Homo sapiens: one gene and its partner. The protein of the gene in region 1 purifies or fractionates together with the protein of each later gene. This does not show direct contact. Each region holds a gene or a part of one and is shown on either strand. Other genes may lie near its edges.

Region 1 (9,548 bases):
AGGAGGGCGCTCCCCCAGCCCTACTCTCTTCTTTCATGGCAAACTTCTTTCTCAGGGAAGTCAGAGTGCTGGGAAGAGGCCAGTGGAGCTGTGAGCCCTGAGTTCTCACTCTAGCCCCTTCTTTACCACCTTGTGGGCTGCCTGGGCAGGTCTCAGGGCCTCACCTGCTTCAGCTGAGGAAGGCCGGGGCCAGACGGCCACCCTACCTTGTGTCTGCATATACCCCCCATTCACTCTAAAAAGTCCCCGCATCCCTTCAGCCTCCTCCTCAGGGTGTCACCCAGCTCCCCGTCCATCGACTATCGATTATTATTCCTGGCTGCAGCCACCTGCGACTCCAGCGAGCTGGGCTGATGGGTCTCACTGCCTTTCCTGTCCCCCCATGCGCTGGTCCACTGACTGGGGGTTCCTGTCAGAGCTCAACCAACAGCATTCCTCTGGTGGGGTTCATCCTGTCTGGTCTGCGCCCCCAGCCCCACCTTCAGGACCCCCTCGTGCCAGCCTGCGCCAGCCCTGTCTTTACTTGGGTCACCCTCCAGGCAGCGCCCCTCCTCCAGTGCAGCTGCCAGGCCCAGGGGCGCCAGGAGGCCTCCCTCGGGAGTCCGAGGTGACCACCACAAGTGACTCCAACAGTGTCCAACTGATCTGATCAGCAAAGGAATTTCCATTGCTCAGCTCAGACCCAAATTCATTGAGAAAGGAACAATTCCAACCTTCTTGAGAAGGAGGGGCTGGGATATTTTCCACAGCTACAAAGAAAGGAGAGGCTTAAAAATATCCTCAACTCCGTCTTCGGAACAATCCCCCACACTCCTCCTCCTGCAAACCTTTGGTCCACCATCGGGTCTCAATTAAGCCATTTCCTATGGAATTTGTCCCCATCCCTACGAGCTGTAGGCTCTGGTGCTTTTCCCTGCACCCAGCGGGGAGCCACTGTGCCCCCAAGGGGGAAGCATCAGGCTCTGTTCAGTGGATGGGCAGTGCCTCCCTGCCCCACATGCAGCCGCAGGCACTGAGCTCGCTGCCTGTCCTGGGTCCACGTCGCTGGGTGCTACTGACCACCTCCCAGCTGTCCACGTTTTTGCTTCCCCAGAGAGCCAAGGGCCCTCACGTGCAGGGGCCCATATCTCTGACCCCTCAGCCCCACCAGAAGCCTATGTATGGTGAGACTCAGCCCAAGCCCCCAGCCAGGCTGACCTGTTCACGATGGACGTGTGTCCTCGGTACACCTGCAGACACTGCCCGGTCAGCACGTCCCACCTCCTGATGGTGCAGTCGGCGCTGCATGTGAAGGCAGCCTCATCCTCCAGCTGGCAGAAGGTCACATAGCTTTCATGTCCTGCAGATGAGGGACAGGGGAGATGTGAGCGTACTGGGGATGCCAGCTCCTGCTTTTCTTCTGGGAACAATGTTTGAAAAGGGAAGAAAGCAGGATGTAGGGAGTGTTTGAGACAAGCTGGAGTCAATTAGCATTAGTTTTGTTTTGTTTTGTTTTTTTGAGACAGAGTCTCACTCTGTCACAAGGCTGGAGTACAGTGGCGCGATCTGGGCTCACTGCAACCTCTGCCTCCCGGGTTCAAGTGATTCTCCTGCCTCAGCCTCCTGAGTAGCTGAGATTACAGGCGCATACCACTATACCTGGCTAATTCTTTGTATTTTTAGTAGAGATGGGGTTTCGCCATGTTAGTCAGGCTGGTCTCGAACTCCTGACCTCAAGTGATCTGCCTGCCTTGGCCTCCCAAAGTGCTGGAATTACAGGCGTGAGCCACTGCGCCCAGCCCTCAACTCATCCTTCTTAAAGAATGACTTCAGTCTGAGTGATTCTCAGAAAGCACGGGGTACCAGTGAGGCACGACAGATAGTCAGGGAAGTAACCATGTCCTCAGGACGCAGCAACCATGGCGACTGCGCCGTCAACACAATAAGCCCCAGCATTCGCACTGCAGGCAAGCTCATTCAAGCAAAGCTATCTTCAGTAGGGACTTTCCCCTGTAGAGAGCACGTGCACTTTGATTTTTACCGGTCCTCACAGTGACCCTTTGCTCATTACAATAGTAAAAAACACACCCCTGGATGGAGATTTAAGATGCCAGTGAGACATGTGACGTATGAACAGGGATGCACAGCCACTGTGCATGAGCACCCAGAACATGCTTCCCAGCAACCCCCTTGCCCACCTGCTCATGAATAATCAGGTAAGACTCCTAAAAAGGGATCCTCCCTCCAGCCGGTCTTTGCTCTCTCATCCTCACAGGCAGCCTACCCTGACTCCCCTCTTGGGGCGTCCTGCCTATTCTGCACCTAACTTTCAGGGTATTCTTCCTCCTGTGCAATACATTGCTCTATGCTGCATCTCCTTTGCTGTGTGTCTCCTGTTTCAATTCTGTTAAACTAAGAAGACAAGAACTGAGGTTTCACAGCAGCCATCAACAGCAGGAGCAATCCAGGGGCACTCGCCTGCACCCTAAACCCTCTGTTTCCTCAGCTTCCACTCTTGCCTTCCTCCCTCCTCTCCTTCCCTCCTCATTTCTTTATCATCTCCTTTTAGTCTTTTTCAAACCTTTCAGCTTTTGCATTCCACATTTCCTCACCTGGGATGGGGACAATGCCTGCCTCACGGGATGTAGCGCAGACTGAGGACAGAGGCAGCCGCAGAGGGAATGGCACATGTTCGCTATTTTCCTTACACTGGGGAGAGATACTGTGGTAGGCAGAATGACGGCCCCAAGACAGCAGGTCCTAATCCCTGGAACCTGTCAATGTGACCTTACTTGGAAAGGGGTCTTTGTGGATGTGACGAGGTAAAGACTTTGACTGGGGAGATTATCCTAGATTATCCGGGGGGTCCTAAATACAACCGCAAGTGGCCAGGCGCGGTGGCTCACGCCTGTAATTCCAGCACTTTGGGAGGCCGAGGCGGGTGGATCACAAGGTCAGGAGTTCAAGATCAGCCTGGCTAAGATGGTGAAACCCCGTCTCTACTAAAAATACAAAAAATTAGCCGGGCGTGGTGGTGGGCGCCTGTAATCCCAGCTACTCGGGAGGCTGAGGCAGAGAACTGCTTGAACCCGGAAGGCGGAGGCTGCAGTGAGCTGAGGTTGCACCACTGCACTCCAGCCTGGGTGACAGAGCAAAACTCTGCCTCAAAAAAAAAAAAAAAAAAAAAAAATATATATATATATATATATATCTCCACAAATGTCCTTACAAGAGAGAGGCCAGGGAGATGTGATATACTCGGAAGAGGAGGCCGTGAAGGTGAAGGCAGAGATGGATGTGGCCACGAGCGCAGGAATGCCAGCAGCCACTAGGGCTGGAAGAGGCCAGGAACCGACCGTTCCCTGCAGGGTTTAGATGTGGCCCTGCTGACACCCTGCTTTCATCCCAGGGACGCTCATTTCAGCCCTCTGGGTTCCAGCACTGTGAAGAATCAACTTCACTTGTTTCCAGGCACCAAGCATCCTCCTTTGTCACAGCAGCCCCAGGACACTAACATAGACACAGAGACAATGAAACACAGCCTTGCCCTCCAAGGGAGCTCCAGGCCCAGAAGGGAAGACAGTCAAGGGCAGCATGTGGTCAGCAGGGCTCGGCACCCCACTGGCAGCGGCTGGCTGGGGCTCGGGAGAGAAGCCTGAGCACTGGAGACCAGGAAGAGGGTGACTCGGTGCCCGTAGGGAGAACAGCGGCTAGGAAAGCAGGCGTGCAGGGACTGGCTCCATGGGGCACCTCCAGGCCAGAGTCTGAGTGATCGGTAGAGATGACTGATGAGGCCGGGATGTGGCCAGAATGGAGGGCCAAGAGTGGAGGGCCATGCCAGGGTGTCTGGGGTCTCAGCACCTGAGCTACCCCACCAGCTGGTTGGGACTCTATCTCATGGGTGCAGTTAGATAGCTTGACTATCACCCTGGCTGCCAGATCAATGTTTATGCCTCAGGCATTGCTTAGCAGCCCTGGGGGCCCTCAGGGTCTCTGATCTTAGTAGGGCCTGCCCTTCAGGTAAAGATGGTGTGTATACAGTTGTCCCCCAATATATACAGTTGCCCCCAATACCCATCAGGGATTAGTTCCAGGATCCCCTGCAGATACCAAACTCCACAACGCTCAGGTCCCTGTGGTGTAGTATTTGCCCATAACCTATGCAATCCTCCTGCATACTTCAGTTCATCTCTAGGTTACTTATGACACCCACTGCGATGGCTACACATCGCTTCACTTGTGTGGATTCAGTGTAGGACTTGGTGAGCAGGGAAGCCAAATTTTGCTTTTTGGAGCCTTGTGGAATTTTTTTTCCTGGATGTTTTTCATCTGTGGTTAGACGAACCCACAGGTGCAGAACGTGTTGGGCAGGAAGGCCCACTGGATTTGAGGAACTCGGGGACCAGGAAGTCAAATCAAAAGACTGTTAGAACTAAGAGCCATTTTACAGATGAGACAATGGACAAATTCAAACATCCACACATTTGGGGGACATACTTATTACATTAAGAATTTTGATAGAATTTTAAAATTTCATTTAGACAGCTGGTATTGGGTAGACAGGGATTTAGAATTTCCTGGGTAGTTTCAAGCCAATTCACATCCACCCCTTCCCCCGACCCCCTGAGTTTAAGTTCAGTTACTCTTGGAAAAACGCAACTTCCTGAGTTCTAAGAAACATAATTTAACAAAAAAGTTTTCCAGCCTCCCTGGAGGGCATATACCAGGCCGCTAAGAAAACAATGTACGGATTAAGTCAACATTTGAAGAAACTGCAGATTCTGTTTCCCTTAAAATACATGTCGGCTTAAACATTGAGGGCAATGTGTTTGTCAAAACGCAGGCTAGATTTTTGCCAACCCCAGAGGGTTTATAAAATATGTTAAGATTGTCAATAAACTTTCCCTGGGAACAGATCCGTCCCACCCTCCCTGCTGCCGCCAGGAGGGCTCAGCAGAGAGATTGCGGCTGGAGACACCCAAGATGGAAAGGTAATCAAGGTGTGCTGTGGGCATTCAGGTGCCAGGCACCTGCCTAAGGATCCTGTGGGGCCGATACCAAGCCCAGCTGCTCCCGACGCATCTCAGCCCCAGGAAGGTGAAGCGCAGCAGTGAGTCATATGTTAAGCCAAGAAAAGCACTTAAAAGCCAATGGCGGCTAGTGAGCTGTGGCATCTCTACCTGGTGGAACTGAAGCCTGAAGCCAGGGATGCTGAAGACCTGAAATGAGGGACCACTTTATGATGTGTGTAAGGAATAAAGGACATATACGCAGATGATGGCAAACTGATAAAAATGTAAATGCATACAAATATTGAAGAAAACAGGCAATGATGAAAGGAAGGTTTAAAAAAAAAACTCCATTTCTGAACTGGGCCAGGCTGCCCTGATGCCCTCTGCCCTCTGCCCTGTGGCAGAGCCTGGCACTGAGCCCACAGAGGCCCACAGCGTTCAGGGTTCTGCTGTGGACAGGCCTCTTCCCCTGGGTTTCTAAGCACTCACCCACATCTGAACACACGCCCAAGTGAGTCACGGGTCAGAGCCAGGCCAACAGAGCATGTCCCCAACCCCAACCCCTATGTTCCACAGAACACAAAACAGGCCTCCACTGACCCAGGCCTGCGGGGTCACCCTAGCGGGGAGGAGGCGGAACCAGGCCTGCCACCCCTGGAGCTGAGGCCCCCACCCCAACCCCGAGGACCCTAGGACAGAAGAGGGAAGGCATGGGGGTGGGCTCATCACACCTCCAGGGGCTGCAGTGATTGTGCAGAATAAGCAAAAAAGCCAAACTAAAAATAAATATTTCTGAAGGGATGAAGAATGCAGATAAGATGCAGTTATTATGTTCAAAGAACATGCTGAGGCTGACGGTTTTCTGCCAAGGTAGCGCCTGCACACCCTGGGGACTCGCTGGAAGTTTCAAGTCAAACTGCTTCCTCCCCCACCACCCCAATGCAGGAAAAGCAGCTCAGAGCTTCGGACCTGCTGGTGGCGGGTCTCTGCCGGCGGTGGGCTGCAGTGGGCCTGGTGCCCCTGACTTGCGTGGAAGCCGTGTCTCCCTTCCCTGTGTCCCAGCTTTAGACAACGGACTGGACAGCCACCCTGGAAGCCACACGGGGCAGGGATGGCACTGCTGACCTGGTTTGCTCCAGCCCTTGTAGCACAAGGGTTATTTTCACCTGTGGGGGAGGCCCCACTGAGCCTGCTGTCCAGGACTGAGCCTTCCTCTGCTCCCCAATCCCCCTCTTTTCCACCCTGCCACCGCCATCTGCATGGACTTCACAGTGGGCTCACTCTTATCTAAGACTCCCATTGGGTTAGAAAAGAGGGAGCCCACCGTGGGTTCCGACAAGTGGGAGCCGCAGCTGGAGACTCTAGGTCAGGATATGTTCCCCTCCCCCAGCTCCGACCCTGCAGGGCTCCCTCAGGCTGGCTGTGGCCATCCAACCTGGAAGGAAGCCCTCTCAGCTGTTTCCAGGATGCAGTGGCTGCGTCCCCGACTCAGGCCCAGAAGAGGTGACAGCCTTGCTGTTCCGAGCCACGGCCACTGTGGTTCCCTTATGCTCCACCTGCATTTTGCAGTGTCCCTTTATTAAACTCTCCTGGTAGAACCCAGTTTCGAGGGTGCTGGGACCCTGAGGCAGGTGACATCTGGGCCCAGAAGCACCAACAGCGTGGCTGGAATGGACACTGACGTGGCCACCAGAGACTTGTAGCAAATCTGCAAGCCCCCACTTTGAACCAAGACCTACGCAGCTTGGCTTTCTGGACTTCTCCGGTGGGAGCGGTCAGTTGCCCCCAAGCTGTGTGAGGCTGCTGTGGCTCTTGTCACCAGCGTGCCGCAGGCCTCCTTCAGCCCAGTCTTCTGGGCCACTGCTCTCCCGCCAGGCTTCACAGGGAGTCTCCTATGCCACCGGCTCCCAGCAAATGGGAATGTGGGGTTGTACCCAGGAAATTAACAACAATCCCCGCCCCCTCATGTTAGAAGACGAGGAAGCGTGTGGGACAGCCACAGTGGGCTGCCACCTTCAGGCTGAGTCCCCTACTCAACAGGAACAGGATAGGATAGGTACTACCATTTTGGAAAATGTCACTCATCTCATTGAACCAATAAAGTGCCCCCAAATAAGGAGATATTCAATGAATAAACCTGAAAAAGAGGAGGTCAGGGATAAGCAAGTGGCAAGTAATTCTTCTCTTTGCAGAGTAATTGCAATGAAGCCTTTTTCACTGTGAGCTCACCAACCGCATTTGAAAGGCAATTCCGTGTATGAACAAGTGAATGCACCCACAGGGAGGGGCTCCCCACACGCCGGTTCTGCAGCCCACTCTCCCTGGGGCCTCCGGGAGCAGCACCTCACCCACCAACCCCGCACGCCACAGGGAACGGCCTTCACTCTTCCTCTCCCTCTCACCCTTTGGCCCAAACTTTCCTAAGCTCTGCGAGACACCCAGGAAAGCCTGCGGTCCCTGATTGCCCCTGCTGCCATGAACAGAGCCAGAGGTCTCTAGAGGAAAAGCGTACGTAGGAGTCGCCAGCCCCAGCCACTCTGCTCGAGAAATCCAGGACCGGCCAACCACAGGCTCTTGTGGGCCCAGAGCTGTGCAAGGGCCAGGACGGAACCAAAGTGGAAAGAGATCTAGATTTAGAGTTAGGATGCTTCTAGGGATGGGGCCACCACAGACCAGCCATGTGGTCTGGACACAACTTCCCCCACAGTGGTAAGAGAAGCACCGTACAGTCTTCAGAAACCCTCTCTGCCATGGACCAGCTGCGGGACCCTGGACAAGTCCTGCCACCGCACCACGCCTCGAGGGATGTTGGCGACAGCACCCACCCCATTATCGATGGTATCTAGAAAACAACAAGAATGCCGTGTATGCTGCTCATGAGTCTGCACCTCCCCACTCTCCTCTGTGAACTGGTGTCAATCCCACCCACCTCAGAGTTGTGAGGATTCATTACACAATAAAAAAGCACAAAGATGTGTTATTTATAAAATATAGGGCACTAAACAAATGTTAAGACATTTTAATAATATTTCACTGATAGAAAAAAAAAATCCTGCAGGAGAAAGGAACTGGCAACACCTTGCTTTCTTTGGGGATCCACACAAAAGGACTGTCACACACTCACAATGACTCTTTTGCAAGTTGAGCGTATCAGTAGAATCTCAGGATAAAGAAAGATGACCTCTGTCCCCGTCCTTGAAAATTCCTGAAAATACCAACCCATATAACAGCAAAAACAATCCTAGCAAAATGGGCCACAGTTCTTTCATTCCAGTGTCCTGCTTGAGCGGGGATAGCCCTGCCCTCAATTAGGGCAGAAGGTTGGGCACCCTCCCTGGGAAGTGAGTGTCAGTACCTCAAGGGGACAAGCAGCCGTGAGGGTCACCAAAGTGGGTGTGAAGGAAGGAGGCACAGGTGCCAGACACAGAGCTGGGCAGGAGGGTGGGCCCTGGAGGCTTGGTGAGGCTCCAGAGCTGCCGTGGGGGCAAAGCCAAGTGCCCACCAGGCTACCGGCAGCCTGGCAAAGCCTGGGGCCTCACTGGGGAGAAACCCCACCTAATTGTGGGCTAAGCTGGGCTCCCACAACCCGTCCCCAGCCCAGGGGCTCCCGGGGCCAGCTGTGCATAAGACCCACCCAAAAGCTTGTTAGAAATGCCAATTCTAGGCCGGGTGCAGTGGCTCACACTTGTAATCTCAGCACTTCGGGAGGCCAAGGCGGGTGGATCACCTGAGGTCGGGAGTTCAAGACCAGCCTGGCCAACATGATGAAGCCCCACGTCTAATAAAAATACAAAAAAATTAGCTGGGCGTGGTGGCGAGCACCTGTAATCCCAGCTATTCAGGAGGCCAAGGCAGGAGAATCGCTTGAACCCGGGAGGCGGAGGTTGCAGTGAGCCAAGATCGTGCCACTGCACTCCAGCCTGGGCAACAAGAGCGAAACTCCATCTCAAAAAACAACAACAAGAAGAAATGCCAGTTCTACAGCCCTATTCATGGAGGACTGCATCACTGGAGCCCAGGCCTGGGGATCTGCATTTCTGAAACACCACCCACCCCTCTACCCCCAAGACAGTCTTATGTTTGGGAGCAATACCAACTGGACTTAACATTTCTAAAAGACCTCATATTTTCCATTCCTGGTTGAATGCCTATAAGTGTGTGTGGCTGTTTGGGGGGGATGTGTGTTAGTTTGTGGCCACCTCTCCATTATCCACACCAACTCCCAAGTAACCGGTAATCCAAAAGTCATCCCTGTTGGGTTTGAAATATCTGCCCTAACTATGTAATATTTTTTTCTTTTCTTTTCTTTTTTTTTTTTTTTTAGACAGAGTCTGGCTCTGTCACCCAGGCTGGAGTGCAGTGGCACGATCTTGGCTCACTGCAACCTCTGCCTCCTGGGTTCAAGTGATTCTCCTGCCTCAGCCTCCCGAGTAGTTGGAATTACAGGCGCCCGCCACCACGCCCAGCTAATTTTTTGTATTTTTATTAGACACAGGGTTTCATCATGTTGGCCAGGCTGGTCTCAAACTCCTGACCTCTGGTGATCCACCCACCTTG
Region 2 (9,548 bases), on another chromosome or scaffold:
TCAGGATTCTAGATCTTTACGGCACCATGCCCTCACCTGGCCACTGGGGGGCCAACTTTGTGAAAAGAATTAGTGTTACCATTCCCTATGGGTCTCTGTGACCTCGTCATTGGTGAATTCAGCAGCTTTTGCTTTTCTGTCAGTGTATCGGTTATCCAGTGCTAGGTAACAAATTATCCCAAAGCTTAGCAACTCCAAACAATCAGCATTTATTATTTCAAAGTGTCTGTGGCCAGGAATCTGGGTGTGGCTTGCTCAAATGCCTCTGCCCCCAGGTCTCTCACAAGGCTGTGATCAAGCTGTCAGCTGGGGCTGCATTCATTCCTCCATGGAGAGGGATCAGTTTCTAAACTCCTGCATGTTAATTATTGGCAGGATTCAGGTCCTTTCAGGTTGCTGGACTGAGGGTCTCAGTTGCCCTCTGGCTGTTGGCCAGAGGCTCCCCTCAGTTCCTTGCCACATGGGCTTCTCCACAGGGCAGGTCACAACTTGGAAACTGGCTTCTTTCAGAGCAAGCAACACAGTGAGAGTGAGTGAGTGAGATGGGTTATAACCCAGTGGCAGCAATGACATCACATTACTTTTGCAGTATTCTATTCAGTAGAAGCAAGTCATTGGGTCATCTCATTTTCAGGGAGGAGATTACACAAGGCCTTGAATACCAGGAAGCAGAGAAGATTGGGGGCCCGCTCAGGGCTGCCTGCCCCACCCAGCTAGGGAACTGCTCTTTCTGGACATTTGTGAGAAGGAGCCCTTTCCATAGATCCCTCGTGCAGTGCTTGGGGCTGATGAAATAGAACAGGACCCATGTCATGCAGTCCTATTAATCTCAGGAGGTAGGAGGACATGCTGATGTGGAAATTGGTCTTGCTGAAGAAGCTGAACAAAAGCAAAGTGCATCAACCTATTCAAAGGAGAGAGAGAACTTGGTACATGTGTGCATGTTCATGTTGGAAGGGTATAATAATTATTTCTAATTGTTTTTAAAATTCAAAGCAGTCAAGAGAGTGGTTGTCTTTGAGGAAGAGGAGAGGATGGGACTGAGAGGGGATGTGAATGGAGCTTCTGAGTGCTGGGTGCGGGTCCTTCTGTGACCCTGGTAGTAGTGGTATGGAAGTGTTTATTTTGTGATAATTCTTTAAGCACAATTTTTCTATTTGTGCACTTTTCTCTGAGTATGATATATTGCACAGAGAATATATCATACACAGAGGAAATGTTTATGTTTTAAAAGCTCCAAAGTAGGAGTGTAGACAAGCAAAGACAACAGAGTTTCATGCAGAAACAAGGAAACTGTTTTAACAATAATGTTTATATTTGCCGCAGGTGCATTCCGTAAATAAGAAAAATCCCTGCACTGGGATAGTACTGGAATGAATGCACTTCAGGGAAATTCTTCTAGGAAGTTGAGCAAACTTCCAAGTTGAACTTGAGCAAAAGTTGATCGTATTATGTTGTACACTAAATACAGATATTTAGGAATTTCTAACAGCTCATCATTCACTGACTTTTGGCTAAGTCTGCTTTTATTTTAAAATAAGTTATTAATGGAATGATTAATGGGTCCAACTGAAACTCTCTCTGAGTTACTCTGACCTATGTCACAAGAGCGGTGAACCCTTTCTTCCCGTAGCTACTCTGGTGGAACACATTTCCAATGCTTAGGTCTTGAGTCGAGCCACACACTGACTATTTGGAGTAAAAACTGAAAGTACAGCATTCTCTCTTTCATGGTATTTTTGGAATCCCTGCCAAACCTTGCTTGCCTGCCAGAAAGCAGAGCGGATGTTGTGAAAGTAGTTCAAAGCCCTCCAAAAGCCTCATGCGCCATCCAGGAGAAGCTGGGCTGCTGGATGAGGCCCAGCCCCAGGATGCCTGGTGTAGGAAGGAGCTTGGAAGGTTCTGTTGTTTCATTAATTTCCTTCTTCTGTATTATTGTCTACATTTTTTTCTTTCATCCATAGAAGAACTAACACAGATTTGAGCCAAATGGTAAAAAATTTGAACTACTTAGAGCCAAAAGCCATATGAGAAGTGTCAGCTTAATGCCCAAAGTTGAAGAGACCCTGTTCTAAAAATTTTATTAGCTATAAAGAGGGGTTAATTCATGTATGCAAAGTCAGTTTCCCCAATTTTTATTAATTTTCAAAGATCTTATTTAATTTTTTAATATGAAAAATTAGGATCTTCCTTTGAAGTAGATGTCTAAATTTCTTTAGAACAAAATAAAACTCTTTAAATAACTTTACATTAATAGCAGTATGGTGATATCAGAGGAAGAAAGCTTTTGTTGTTGTTGTTGTTTTGGAAAAGTTGTTTTGGAAGCATAGATATTGAAAACTCAGAAAGAAGAAATATGCTCTTTTGGCCCTGCCTAACTTTCTATAAACAATCCCTCTGCTTTCCTACTGCACTGTTTTTTCTCCATTTTGGAAGGAAGGATTCCTATCTTTATCCATCTATATGTCTATCTTCTATCTATCTATCTATCTATTAATATCTATCTATCCAGCTATTGATCTATGAATCTATGTCTAGTTTTTTTGTTTAATGGAAAGGATTTCCTCAGACTCCAAATAGGGTTCAGAATGCAAAAGAGAATAAAAAGCAAATTGGTAATTCATTTATTCATTTATTTCTTATTTTATATATTCATTTTTTCAACAAGTATTCAACGAATGTCTACATGTGTAAACAGTCTACATGTGCAGTCATTCTTTCAGGCACTTGGGGCTATAGCACTGGGCATGTCAGATAAAAAGGCCTGCCTTCCGGAAGCTTATGTTTTAGTAGGAGAATAAACAAACATAATTGACTATTAAATGTATAATATGATAAGTGATGATAGATTTGATAAAGAATAGAAAAGGGGATAGAACATGTTGAGGAATTGATATTTAATTAGGAAGGACATGAAAGGCCTCTTTGAAAGACATAATTTGTGTAAAATCTGAAAAAGGAAAGGGAATGAGGCTTGAGGTTCTCTGAGGCCGAATATTTCAGGCAAAAGGAACAAAAACACAAACACCTTGGGGCGGGAGTGTGCCTAGGGCATTTAAGGAAGAGCAAGGAGGTCAAGGTAGCTGTAATGTAGTGGGGATGGAGCATGGGGAGTGCAGCAGTGGGCTGGAGGGGCAGCAGGGACTCGAGCCATTGAGGATCTCATTGCCATTGCAAACACCAGCTTCTGCTCGGAGTAAGACAGTGACCCTCTGGAAGGTTCTGAACAGAAGGATGGCATGCTTTGTGTCATGTCTGAAGGTAGAACCATCAGCCTTTGCTGGTGGATTGGGTGTGGTAGAAGGAGTCAAGAATGACTCCAGTGTTTGCTCTGAGCAACTGGAAAGACGGAGTTACCATTAAGTGCTTTGTGGAAGACTACGGTAGGAACCGGGTTTGGTGTGCATTGGAAGTTGGTGGGGTGGGGATGTAGAGAATAAGAGGAACTTATCTTTAGATATGTTATTTTTGAGATGCCTCTTAGGGGTTGATGTGGAACTGCTGAAGAGGAAGTTTAGACAAATGATGATGGAGTCCAGGGAAGAAGTAAGGAGAGATATAAACTTGGGACCCTCAGCACATAGGAGAGTGGGAGAGATTTCTTGTGATTACCAACAGCATGAACATAGATAGAGCAGAGAACAGGATACAAGCTGGGGCTTTAGAACACTCCAGTGAGAAGAGGTGGCGTGACAAGGAGGAATCAGCAACTAAGGTGGGAGTAAGTAGCAATTGTGGTACAAGAAAAATCAGGAGAATGTATCATAGGAGCACAACAATGAAACTGTTCAAGAAGGAGGAGTAGTCAATTGTTTTAGGTGCTGCTGATAAATAAGTTGAAGATGGATCATTGGTTTAACATTGATTTAATGGTTTATTGGATTTAACAACATGGAGGTCACTGATGGTCTTCACAAGAGCAGTTTTGGTGAATGGTGGGGGCCAAACCCTGATGGGACTGAATCTATGCAGAATGGGCCACTGGAGACAGGAAAAAGTAGAGCATTAGCTGGACAGGGATTTGGGGGCAGAGAGGAATTTTAACATGCAAGAAATAACAGCAAACATGTGTACCAGTGAGACTGCTGGAGGGGATCTGGAAAGTTGGTGAGTCAGAGGAGAGAACAGAATTGCTGGGATGAATTTCTTGAGTAGGAGAGCGGGGGCCATTGTGCCCAAGTGGAGGGATTGGCCTTTACTAGGAGCACAGATGCTCCATCTCTGTGAACAGGGCAGAAGGCAGCATAGATTTGCATCCATGTAGTTCGTGGGCAATAGGAACTTGGGAGAAGTGCTCTTCTGATGGCTTCCATTTCCTCAACAAAGAGATAGCAAGGCCATCAGCTGCGAGTGAGGATGAGAGAGGGGGTTTGAGATGAGAAGAGTTTTGAAATAGTCATTTGGGAGACTGCCAGAAAAAGGATGTGAAAATGTGATGACTGGAGAGTAGTGAAAATCCACTTACTGGCAGTGGTTGTGAAGTTTTAGTTTCACACATGCTGTCCTGGGGATAGTCAAAAAGAGTAGTTCAATCACATGCATGAATTGAATGTCTACATGGCACTTGGCATTGCGTTAGGTGCAGGGAATACAGGGATGAAGGAAATGTTTCTTGTCATCTTCTTTAAGCTTTAGAAGAGGGGCCATGACTTACCCGTAAATACCTAAATGTACCTCGGTAAGTTCTCAGAGGGCATCATTGGAAGGCATGAGAACATAAAAACTTAAAAGCTTATCAGTCCAATTTTGGGAGTGCAGGGAAGGTTTCCTGGACAATGTGATGCCTCAAGTATAGATTTACGGGTTTTGAAAAATTGGGTAGGCCAGGTGCAGTGGCTCACGCCTGTAATCCCAGCACTTTGGGAGGCTGAGGTGGGTGTATCACTTGAGGTTTAAGGAGTTTGAGACCAGCTTGGTCAACATGGCGAAACCCCATCTCTACTAAAAATAGAAAAATTAGCCAGGCATGGTGGTGCATGCCTGTAATCCCAGCTACTTGGGAGGTTGATGCAGGAGAATCGCTTGAACCTGGGAGGCAGAGCTTGCAGTGAGCTGAGATTGGGCCACTGCACTCCAGCCTGGGCAACAGAGTGACTCTGTCTCAAAAAAAAAAAAAAATGAAAAGAAAAGAAAAAAATTGGGTAAAGAAAGACTGGAAAGTGTTCTGTGTAAAAGAAACTCTAGAAATTAGAGTTTATGAGGTGAAGAAAGGCAAGGAAGATTCTTCATGTGGCACAACAACACGGAGGTGTGAGCTAGTGTTGTGTGGGTGAGAAAATGCATGCCAGTACATTAGACTGGGAAGTCAAAAGGAAGCAGAGTATCAACAAATGGTGCCAGTGCAGGTGAGGAGCCTTGGGTGTAAGGGGATCCATGAGGGGGACTCGGCATTTACATGCATCCCTGCTCTGCTAAGTGGAGGTGGAGTTGAAGTGGGCATTGGAGGCAGTGGTCTCGCTCAGGAGGCTGTGGCAGCAGATCAAACGTGATATATTGAACTGGATATCCAACCTTAGGATTATGGTCATGGGATGGAGAAAACAGGCATAGATTTGAGATACAATTGTCAGGGCTGAATATTTGTTTTTAATATGGAGGATGAACATCTTATTTATACTCCATTCCTTGTCTATAGAAAACTCTAACCTGAGCTAGACATTTCAGAAATGTGTGCCATTGGTTACAGAGGAGGCAGAATGGAATAGCACCAATAGGTTGTTTATTAGCATTATTGGAATACATACTGTTTTGATGGAAGGTTAGTAGCCTCTTCTTTGACTGAAAAGATAATCTGTGTATTTATTCTGTATTAAATAAATGTGATTTATTAAAAATAAAGATAATTTAATAAAATCTTAAAAGACATATTTTATGTTGCCATATGTCCTAGGTAAAGTGTTACGTTCCAATTTTACTTAGTGAAGTTTGGATTGTCAATAAAATGCTAATACCTACAATGGTAAGTTTTAGGAGGCATGATTCCCACACCAAGGTAGAATTGTTACTGTGGTGTGGAATAATGGATTGATCAGGGAAAGGCAACATAGAAGATCTTTGCTATATGTCTAGCTCTTCCACTAACTCTTGGGTAGGATACTTCACTTCTTTGCGGCTAGCGTATGCAAACAAATGTCGTATTTCTTAAGCTTAATGCTGGAATTAGAACATTAACGTGCAAAAATGCTTTGGTAATTTTATGTATATGTGTACTTGTAAAAGAGTTGGTAAAGATGGTTTATGTAAATTAAGACACTCTCAACATACCCCCTTCCCCTTTTTTTCTACTCACACAGTGTAAAGAACATGATCTGGCCATGATTAACCAGTTGCTGGATGACCCGAAGCTGACAGCCAGGAAATACAGAGAGTGGAAAGTCATGAACACCCTGCTGATCCAGGACATCTATCAGCAGCAGCGGGCTTCGCCTGCCCCTGATGACACTGATGACACCCCCCAGGAACTCAAGAAATCACCTTCTTCTCCCTCTGTTGAAAATTCCATTTGAGACAAAGTCAGGGTTTTCTCCTCTTATATTTTATCACAAGCAACTCTTCAAGATGTTGCAAAAGCTTACATTTTTCCTTAAAAGGAAAACTGAAACCCAGTCCTTCAAGCATCAGCTTCCCATCTAAAGATGCACGTTAGATGAAGATAATCACCGAATACACCAGGGCTCCTCATTTCAGTCGTAACGCATCCATTGAGATTGGAATGATTGAGTTCAGTTGAAAGGCGTTTTTTGTGTTCCTACTGGGAGCTCACGGTGATGTGGGGCTCTAGGGGGGATGTGAGAAATGTCTCTTCTGTTCATTGCTCTCCAGAGAATGCTATGGACAAGAATCAAATTTTACCAGGAGTAATTGCCCATGGAAACATTCTGTTTTTCAAAAGAAGAATGTACATATTCCACTTGACTGGGAAGCTGTGTGGCCCAAATCACTGTTTGAGTGGAGGAATGTTTTCTAGAGCAGTGACTGGAAGGACAAACGTGGTGTTGCAGAACAAAAATTCCTTGCCTTTGGTATGGAATGGTGGTGCCTTTTCCATGTGATGAGAAATGCTTCATAGACAGTGGCATGTGGGAGAGCTGAAGGAGGAGGCGTGTTCCATATTCCACTCATTCAAAGGACAGCTTGGTGTTTTCACACTTTATGCAGGTTAGGGGATCTGATTAATGTTTCCTTTCCTTACAACAGCTAGAGAAAACATCTCATCACAATTGGAGACCTCTACTTCCTTTGAGCTTTCCTACTCAATGGTAGGAGATAGGAATATGTTCCGCAAAGAATGTCTACTGCTCTTGTCCTTGGCTGTGATCCCTATACATAGTGTGAATTTATATCCAGGTTTCCCAGGATCAATATTGACAAGACGACTTTGGCATCTGAATTGTTTTAATATCTTTACTCAAAAAAACAAAAAAACAAAAACCCATGGAAGCAACAAAAGAGTTAAACATGAGGGATTTATTTTTGTATGTTTATATGTCACTTGTGTGCTATGTGAATAGCTATGTTTGTTATTTAAATATATTTATAGAAGTTCAAATTACTAGTGTTTAAAAGATGATATACTATTATATATTGTGCTTAGTATATATTTGATGAGTCTATACTTTTTGCTTGAGAAAAATAGAAATACTATTGATTCACTGGTGTTATGATGTTGCACTGTGTCTGAGGAATGCTCAGGAAATCTTGTGGGAAAAAAATGGGGCATGCATTCATAATTTTTCATTTTCTTCCCCACCCCAACCCCCATGAGCTCTTAAATTTAGATTTCTATCTCTTGTAAGTCACTCTTTTAACCAGCAAAGGACTTTCATCTTAGATTATCCTTTCTATTAAATAAACTTTAAGCTTTGTGCCATTTATGCCTGCAAACCTTAGACCAAAGGCAACACAACTAATGTCATCTTTTCATTAAAGACTAATAGAAATTTAGAAATCATTGTGTTAAAGAGAGCTATAGAGAAACAATATGAAAGTCTTCCCTTACTAATCACCATGAATATTTCTCACCATAGGAATAACCACAACCCACCAAGTACCCATGTTGGCCCTGCCTACCCGTAACAAATTGTTCACACAACCTATTTTGTTTTATAGCTTCAAAGTGTGGCTTGACATTCAAATGGAAGGAACCACCTGAATTATATCTGCAAACAAAATGGAAATAGTTGTTGAATAGTTCCCCAAGCTTTACTAAGAAGCCTTAATACTCTGTAAACAAACAAACAAACAAAAAACAACCTTAGCATTAAGAAATAAAAACAAAAAACAAGAAGCAAGTTGTACTGCTAGAAACTTCTCTAAGATAAGAGGCCAGGCCAGTCAGTTTGGCCCAGCAAACATGTGGGTACTTCTCCACCTAGGGAAGCCACTGAAGATGAGTTTGACCTGTGGTGACCTGACAGAGAGAACATTCAGATCCTCAGATTGCACCCTGATGCCCTGGTTTAGGAAAGCAGTGCTTTAACCTTTTGCCCCTGGAAATTACTGATTCTTTCTGTGATTAGCAGATACCAGAAGGGAAATTATTTAGGATTGGCAATGTAAAGAGTATTGAAGGAACAACAAATAACAATAGCAGAAATAACAGTGTGACATAAAGTGCCCTTCCACCTATTTTTCTTTGGTTTGCAACACCAGCCTGTAGACTTCCAGTTTTTCTTAAATTGAAGAGCTCCAGACACTTTTGAGCAGGGTTTGTGAATAGCTTTGAATGCTTTCCTTTGGCTTTTCGTGAAGACATATTTCCCCAGCCTTTCAACTGTAAACTCCTTTAGTACCATTGAAACTTAAGGCAAAAAAGATCCCTGGGATTACTTAGCCAAGGCTTAAATTTATTTTTCAAAGTCAAGAACATTAGCCTAGAAGTTTTTGCTTTGCTAGTTAAAGCTTACTTTGCAGAGCTTCCCAAAGTGAAAGGGAAACTGAACTTCACAATTTTGCACCTGGCTTTCTGGAGCCCCATTGCCTGCTCATTCGTGTTTTTCCCCCTGTAAATTATTTTGCTTTTGACCAGGTTGTGCTAGAAAGTAGGGCTGCTTCTGTGAGTTCTCAGCCTAGGCTGTGGCCACTAAGACGTGGGTGGGGGGATAGACAGGAGTGAGAGGGAGAGTGGGTGACACTTTCCGTGACACTTAATGTAGGAAGACATGGGCTTCTCTCTCTTGGCCTCAAGCCACTTTTCTGGTCCAAAGAATATTGGGAAAACTGGATTACTTTCAGTATATTTCTTGAGACCGGGTCATCTCTGAAATGCATTTGGGGTAGTTTCCTGGGGTCCAAGGGCCAATTCCTATACCCAGTCCTGCAGTGTCTGTGAGCTGTGGAATGAGAGAGAAAACCATGGCTGCTCAGGAAGGAAGTGGAGAATCTCTCAGCACACGTAGATCCAAATCTGTGGCACCTGCTAAAGATTAGGATTTGGAGAGGACTCCTCTTTGGGGTTGTGAAGAGGACCTTTTCCCTCTGTTGTTAGCCTGTAGATCCAGAACGGAGCCTGATGTGATGCCTTCACTGGTTGATATATTGCAAATAGA

Evidence for each region.
Region 2: the proteins of WDR86 (region 1) and IPCEF1 purify together in Homo sapiens (affinity purification with mass spectrometry; 2 studies listed by BioGRID and IntAct, with this or other methods). This does not show direct contact.

The regions. Positions count from the first base shown.
Region 1 is NC_000007.14:151,398,903-151,408,450, forward strand, and holds part of WDR86 (WD repeat-containing protein 86), read right to left. Parts: intron 1,340-9,548; coding exon 1,198-1,339; intron 1-1,197.
Region 2 is NC_000006.12:154,156,786-154,166,333, reverse strand, and holds part of IPCEF1 (interactor protein for cytohesin exchange factors 1), read left to right. Parts: intron 1-6,293; coding exon 6,294-6,506; 3' UTR 6,507-9,548. UniProt on the Homo sapiens protein: Enhances the promotion of guanine-nucleotide exchange by PSCD2 on ARF6 in a concentration-dependent manner.